Linked DNA regions of Homo sapiens. The protein of the gene in region 2 purifies or fractionates together with the protein of the main gene of each other region. This does not show direct contact. Each region holds a gene or a part of one and is shown on either strand. Other genes may lie near its edges.

Region 1 (3,500 bases), on a different chromosome or scaffold from region 2:
TTCGCAGAGATTACCAACACCAGTTTTCTTGTTTGGCTAAATCTCCTTTTTAGTAGTAGGATGTCAGGCGTATTTTAATTAAATTCTAGCCATTTCTTTCAGTGATTGTGAACTGTTTTTACCACCTTAGTAGTAATAATACCTTGGATTTATGGAATACTTTTCTATCAGAGAGTTCAAAGAGCTCATATCTATAATTTCTTTTATCCTGTTAACATTTCTATGAGGGAAGGGGTACAGTTTATTATTATCACTATCTTACAGAGGGAGAAGCTGAGGTGACTTGCTTTAATGCCGTAGCTACTGTTAACTGCCAGGACTTATCTGAGAGACTCATACTTGGATGTTCTATGAAATGGAGCTGAGAATTTGAGGGCTACTTTGTGTTTTGGATATCAACAATTACCTCTTTAATTTTTTTTTAAATATAAAAATACTGTTAAAACAGTGTAACTATCCAAAGTATGTGTGTAGTGAACTATTGGATTTTTGTCCTGTTCTATTGCTCCTTCTTACTCCAAGTTTATGTATTGTCTTGATATTTTGTATGTTTATATAAATGCGTGTTTTTTTTAAAACAAGTGTAAATGAAATCATACCTATACATACATGGTTTTGCAATTGTTTTTTTCACCTGCAATATAGATACTTTTTTTTTTTAAGAGATAGGGTCTCACCCTGTCACCCAGGTTGGAGTGCAGTGGCATGTAGCTCACTGTAACCTCGAACTCCTGGGTTCAAGTGATCTTCCTGCCTCAGCCTCCTGAGAAGCTAGGACTGTAGGGGTGTGCCACCAGGCCCACCTAATTTTTTTTTTTTTTTTTTTAATTTTGTAGAAATGAGGTCTTGCTATGTTGCCTGGACTGGTCTTGAACTACTGGCCTCAAGTGATCCTCCCACCTCGGCCTCCCAGAGTGCTGGGATTACCATGCTTGGCCTAGACACTTTTCAAAATGAACTCATAATCAAGGGTTGACAGACTTTTCTGGAAAGAGCAAGTTATTAAATTGTTTAGGCTTTGAGTGCAGTCATATGTTCTTGTCATATGTTCTTTTTTTTTTTTAAACAATCTTTTACAAATGTAAAAATCATTCTTAGCTTTCTAGCTATTAATAAATAGCTGAAGTGTGGGGCCATAGTTTGCTGACCCTTGATAGATATCTGTGTCATCTATTTGTAGGATTAGAGTTTTCAGTGGTGTGTGTATGTTCGTATGTTCTATTTTGCCTTAATGAACAGTGCTGGAATGAAGGGGGAACACTTAAAGTATCCTTATCTCTTACTTTCTCTGATATGTATATTTAGTCCTTAAAACAGCTTAAGCTTTCCCTCTGAAAGTAAGGTTATTCCTGTTGTTTCTTGGTGACTGATGGCGTTTCCCATCCACAGGGTCCTAACCTGATTATAAAACAACCAGATGAGTTGCTGGACAGCATGTCAGATTGGTGTAAGGAGCATCACGGGAAGGTAACATTACCAAATAACAGGATTGCTGCTTTGGGGATCAGTAGCAAGCTTTTTGCTCCCACACCTGAATCCGATACCATTGTTGGATGGTATTTTAAAAAGGCTTAGAGAAGATTGCATGGCAAGCCTGGGAAACTGCTTGCTTGTTTACTTTTCATCTTTGGGACCTCTCGAGATCATCTTCTCCTGAATGTCCTCTTTTTTTTCTCTCCTACATTCAGTCTGTCGCGAACGCATTGTGGATTGTCAAGTATTACTCAAGTCAGTCTTTTGGATAAGGTTAGACATCAACTTTCAGAGAAGGGGGATTGCTGCTCTCCTGTTAATAGTTGTTTCTTCCCAGAGGTTAATATCCTTGGACTTTGAACACCGTCTTTTTTGACTGTGGACATGCTATTAACAGTCAGGATCATAACTAAGTTGGCTTGGATTCTTGAAGAAAAAAAAATGGTGCAAAGATGGCAGTTGCAATTTGAACTTGAGCTCTAAAAATGGTCTATTTGTGGTTATATTTGCCCATTTTAAAAGTGAAATTTCATTTCTGGATGCCTTTGAAAACTGACTTTACATGTGTTTTTGGTGGGGGGCTGGGGATTCTCTCTTGCAGTCTGGCCTTACCAAGGCAGTGAAGGAGAGTACAATTACATTGCAGCAGGCAGAGTATGAATTTCTGTCCTTTGTACGACAGCAGACTCCTCCAGGGCTCTGTCCACTTGCAGGTAAAATCCAATCCTGTGTATATCTTATAGTCTTCCATATGTAGTGGTTCAAGAGACTGCAGTTCCAGAAAGACTAGCCGAGCCCATCCATGTCTTCCACTTAACCCTGCTTTGGGTTACACATCTTAACTTTTCTGTTCAAGTTTCTCTGTGTAGTTTATAGCATGAGTATTGGGAAAATGCCCTGAAACCTGACATGAGATCTGGGAAACACAAACTTACTCAATAAGAATTTCTCCCATATTTTTATGATGGAAAAATTTCACATGCACAGAGGAGTGGATTTAGTAATTGTTAACCTTGTGTCGTATTTGTTTTACCTATTTTTTGTTGGACATTTTAAAGGAAATTGCAGGCATCAGGACACTTCATTCCTAAATACTTCATCAAACATCTCCTAAGATAAAGACATTTTCTTATGTAATACAATGTCATTGCATTGAAGATAATTAAACATTATTCAGTATCATATGATATCTAGTCCACATTAGATGTTCCCCAAAATATTTGTTTTTGAACCAGGATTCAGTCAAGGCTCGTGCATTTCATTTAGTTATATTTCTTTAGTCTCTTAATGTAAAACTTTCCACCTATTATTTTTCCCCTGTGTCATTGACTTTCTAAAGAGACCAGGCCTGTTCTACCAGGATTTTTAAAAGGGTGACATTGCCAGAGGGAAGTTAATGTTTCTCTGAAGGTATATGTACGTTTGTATATGTAAGTCGATGTGGTAGCTAATACTGTTCTTAAACATTTATAAAAATAAGTTTTGGCATTAAGTACTAGAGCATATATTGTGTAAATGTTTCCGCCAGCCAATGTGGCTGATATCTGTTTTAAAGGTCTCATTTAAAATTTAGTGTTTTTAGTATAAGTTACTTTTTGGGGACATAAATATGCATATGATTTGTTTAAAAATTTGGATTGTAAATAAAGGTTTATCTACCTATGTGATTCAGTTAAATTTTTAGTGTTAGTGGTGTGAATTTTGTGACACTGGGAGAAAGTTTGCATATCAGGTATGACCTTAGAAAGTAACAAATAGATTTGTGCATTACATCAAGCATGTGGAATGATAGATTTGTCCTTCTGTTCATGAGAGGTCATTTACAAATTTATAAGGAGCTAAACTGACTAAGTACTTGGAAATCTGTACTTGTAAGCTAATCACATTTACCCAAACCTGATTTAGAAATATAGAGGTGCTTTTAGGAATTGTTTGAATTTTAAAAAATCATCTCCATTTCAAATACAACTTATGAATTTTGATATCCTGTTGTATAATACTAGAAATATAGAGATGCAGTATGCTTC
Region 2 (3,500 bases):
ATGTTGCCCTACAATGTTAGGAGGACTACCGTGTCACTAGACAATAGGAATTTTTCAGCTCCATTATAATCTTAGGGACCGTCATCATATATGCAGTCCGTCATTGTCCAAAATATCGTTATGTGGTGCGTAACTGTATAAAGAAAATACAACTGTGTGCCCCATAGGGTTGTTGTGAAGATTAGATTCATCCAAGGCACCAGTTATAATAATACCTGGTATTTGGCATTTAGTGGTAGACTGCCAGTAAATGATAGATTACTTTAGTTTCTGTTAGAGAATTTAGAGAATCAGGAAACCTGAGTATATCTTAGAACTACATTTAGTGCTAAATTCTGTGACTTTGTTGTCTGCTCTTTTTCCTCTCAATTTACAGGCAGAGATCTGGCTCCACAAGGAGGCCCAGAAGGAGGGCTGGAGCAAAGCTGCCAAGCTCCAAGGGAGGAAGACCAAAGAAGGCCTGATTGGGCTGTTGCAGGAAGGAAACACAACTGTATTAGTAGAGGTGAGTTGTTGGAAATTCCAGATACCAAGAACAGCTGTCCCTTGGGTGTAAAGCTTGTAGTAGGCCCTAAAGGGGCCTGTTCTTGAAGAAGAGATCTGTTTAAGAACCATAAAGCGTAGTTGAAGTTAAACTCATGAAACCCTGGGTATTAGTTACGAATTCGTTTAAGTATAGAAATGTACTGGTGTGTTGATGAGAAATGGCCTGACAGTCTAGAATATTACTCCTGAATGTGAGTCTGGCACAGGCTTACACCTTGTCACTGATTGTTTCCTGGAACAGTTAGATTACAAGTTAATTATATTAATTGTTGCTGAATAGAGAGTAGGTATTTTAGAGGAGGTTTGGGGGCCATAATTGGTGAAGAGTCAGATGTGGATTAGTTTAGAGTGAGAGATGGGGATAAACAAGATAATAGCATAAGTGGTTTGGAGTTGGGATGGCTGGAGAATGAGGTGATGATGGTGTGCAGACATAGGTAAGTGGTGAACTTGTGGTGAGTCCTTCAGGACATTATTGAACCATCTTCTGAATATACAGGCTATTGCTAACTCACTGGCCCAACATAAATCACTTCATTCTGTTCCAGGCTAGGAGAGGAAGCGTAGCTTTAAAATTTTGGAGTCATTTTTTTTCCGTTGAGTCTGTAGCTTGTTCTATCAGTATCTTGATTTATTCTCCAGCCTTAAGGCACTTTTGGAAATTATCATTAAACAGCTTATACAGCTATATCAATTTGTTCCCACAGGTAAACTGTGAGACAGATTTTGTTTCTAGAAATTTAAAATTTCAACTGTTGGTCCAGCAAGTAGCCCTTGGAACCATGATGCATTGTCAGACCCTAAAGGATCAACCCTCTGCATACAGTAAAGTAAGTTTGGGATTTGTCTCCAGTGTGCTGAATTTGCTGTCCTCATTGGGTCTTTTGCTGTTCCTATTGTAGACATTCTCATGTCTCATTCTGTTACTTCACATCTCTGCTTAAATGCTATCTCTTTGCATAGAATTACCCTTCCCCCGTTGCTATATCCCCGTGTCATGCTGCATTTAAAATTTTTTATTATGGTGCTTATATATTACATTTTAATTTATCTGTGTGTTGTCTATCTTCCCCAGCAGAATGTAAGCTTTATGAGGCAGGGAATTTGTCTTTTCACTGTTGTATCTCTGGTGAAAGAGAATTGGGCCCACTACTTAGTTGGAGCTCAGTAAATCTTTGTCAGATGAATGAATGAATGATTGAATGCATGCATGCCAGTGAAATGGAGTTAGCCAGATCAAGTGAAGCCATTTGAGGCTTTGTGTTCAGAAATTTGGAATGGTCTTAGGAAAGAATTTCTAAATAAAGAGATTGGAGCCAGGTGTGGTGGCTCACCCCTGTAATCCCAGCACTTTGGGAGGCCGAGGCAGGCAGATCACCTGAAGTCGAGAGTTCAAGACCAGCCTGACCAACATGGAGAAACCCGTCTCTACTAAAAATACAAAATTAGCTGGGCGTGGTGGCGCTTGCCTGTAATCCCAGCTACTTGGGAAGTTGAAGCAGGAGAATCGCTTGAACCCGGGAGGTAGAGGCTGCAGTGAGCCGTTGTACTCCCCCCGGGCAATAAGAGCAAAACTCCGTCTCAGAAAAAAAAAAAGAGAGAGAGATTGGAAAAGACATGGTTTAGGAAAATAAGCATATTCTTATCCATAGAGGGATCAAGGAAAGGAATTATGTCATTCTGCCTTTGACTCAGCCTTATTGCCAAGGCAAAGATGAACCAACCACTCACAGTAATTTTTTTGAGTTTATTACCAACTTTTTTTATCTTCTTTATCCTTCTCTTGAGATGTCTTGGTAAATGTTAATTATTATTGGCATTACATAGTCATATGGAAAACAATGTTGAGATTATTTTTTTTAATTGTATTGAGTAGGTAAGTCACTTGAACTAGAAATTTTAGCTTTGATTTTGCCAGTAAACACCAGTGTACCCTTTTTTTTTTTATTTTTGTTTTTGTTTTTTGAGATGAAGTCTTGCTCTGTCACTCAGGCTGGAGTGCAGTGGTGCAATCTTGGCTCACTGCAACCTCCACCTCCTGGGTTCAAGCAATTCTGCATCAGACTCCCGAGTAGCTGGGACTACAGGCGCCCGCCACCACACACGCCTAGTATTTGTATTTTTTGTAAAGACAGAGTTTCACCATGTTGGCCAGGCTGGTCTTGAACTCCTGACCTCAAGTGATTCGCCCGCCTCCGCCTCCCAAAGTGCTGGGATTACAGGCGTGAGCCACCATGCCTGGCCCCAGTGTACTCTTTTTCCAGATTTGCCATTTATTAACATTTTGCTGTATTTGCTTTATCACTTCTTTTTTTCTTTAAGAGACAGATCTGGCTTTCTTGCCCAGCCTGGAGTGCAGTGGCACAATCATTGTTCACTGCTGCCTCAAATTCCTGGGCTCAAGTGATCTTCCCACCTCAGACTCCTGAGTAGCTGGGACTACATGTGCACACCACTATGCTAGGCTCATTTTTAAGTTTTTTGTAGAGACAGTCTTGCCATCTTGCCCAGGCTGGTCTCAAACCTCTGGGCTCAAGAAATCCACCTGCTTTGGCCTCCCAAAGTGTTGGGATTATAGGCTTGGGTCACTACAGCTGGCCCTATCACTTTTTATATACATGTTATCATCGCCCTTTTTTTTTTTTTTTTTTGAGATGGAGTCTCTCTGTCACCCAGGCTGGAGTGCAATGGTGCCATCTCGCTCACTGCAACCTCTCCCTCCCAGTTCAAGCGATTCTTCCACCTCAGCCTCCCAAGTAGCTGGGATTACAGGCACCTGCCATCATGCCCGGCTAATTTTTTTTGTATTTTTGTAGAGACGGGAGTTTCACCATGTTGGCCAGGCTGGTCTTGACTCCTGACCTCAGGTGATCTGCCCACCTGGGCCTCCCAAAGTGCTGGGATTACAGGCGTGAGCCACTGCACCCGGTCATCATCACTGTTTAAAAAAAATC

Evidence for each region.
Region 1: the proteins of TSFM (region 2) and REXO2 fractionate together in Homo sapiens (co-fractionation; one large-scale study listed by BioGRID). This does not show direct contact.

What each region holds. Positions count from the first base shown.
Region 1 is NC_000011.10:114,442,467-114,445,966, forward strand, and holds part of REXO2 (oligoribonuclease, mitochondrial precursor), read left to right. Parts: intron 1-1,389; coding exon 1,390-1,467; intron 1,468-2,074; coding exon 2,075-2,186; intron 2,187-3,500. UniProt on the Homo sapiens protein: 3'-to-5'exoribonuclease that preferentially degrades DNA and RNA oligonucleotides composed of only two nucleotides. Binds and degrades longer oligonucleotides with a lower affinity.
Region 2 is NC_000012.12:57,785,787-57,789,286, forward strand, and holds part of TSFM (elongation factor Ts, mitochondrial isoform 2 precursor), read left to right. Parts: intron 1-376; coding exon 377-505; intron 506-1,253; coding exon 1,254-1,376; intron 1,377-3,500. UniProt on the Homo sapiens protein: Associates with the EF-Tu.GDP complex and induces the exchange of GDP to GTP. It remains bound to the aminoacyl-tRNA.EF-Tu.GTP complex up to the GTP hydrolysis stage on the ribosome.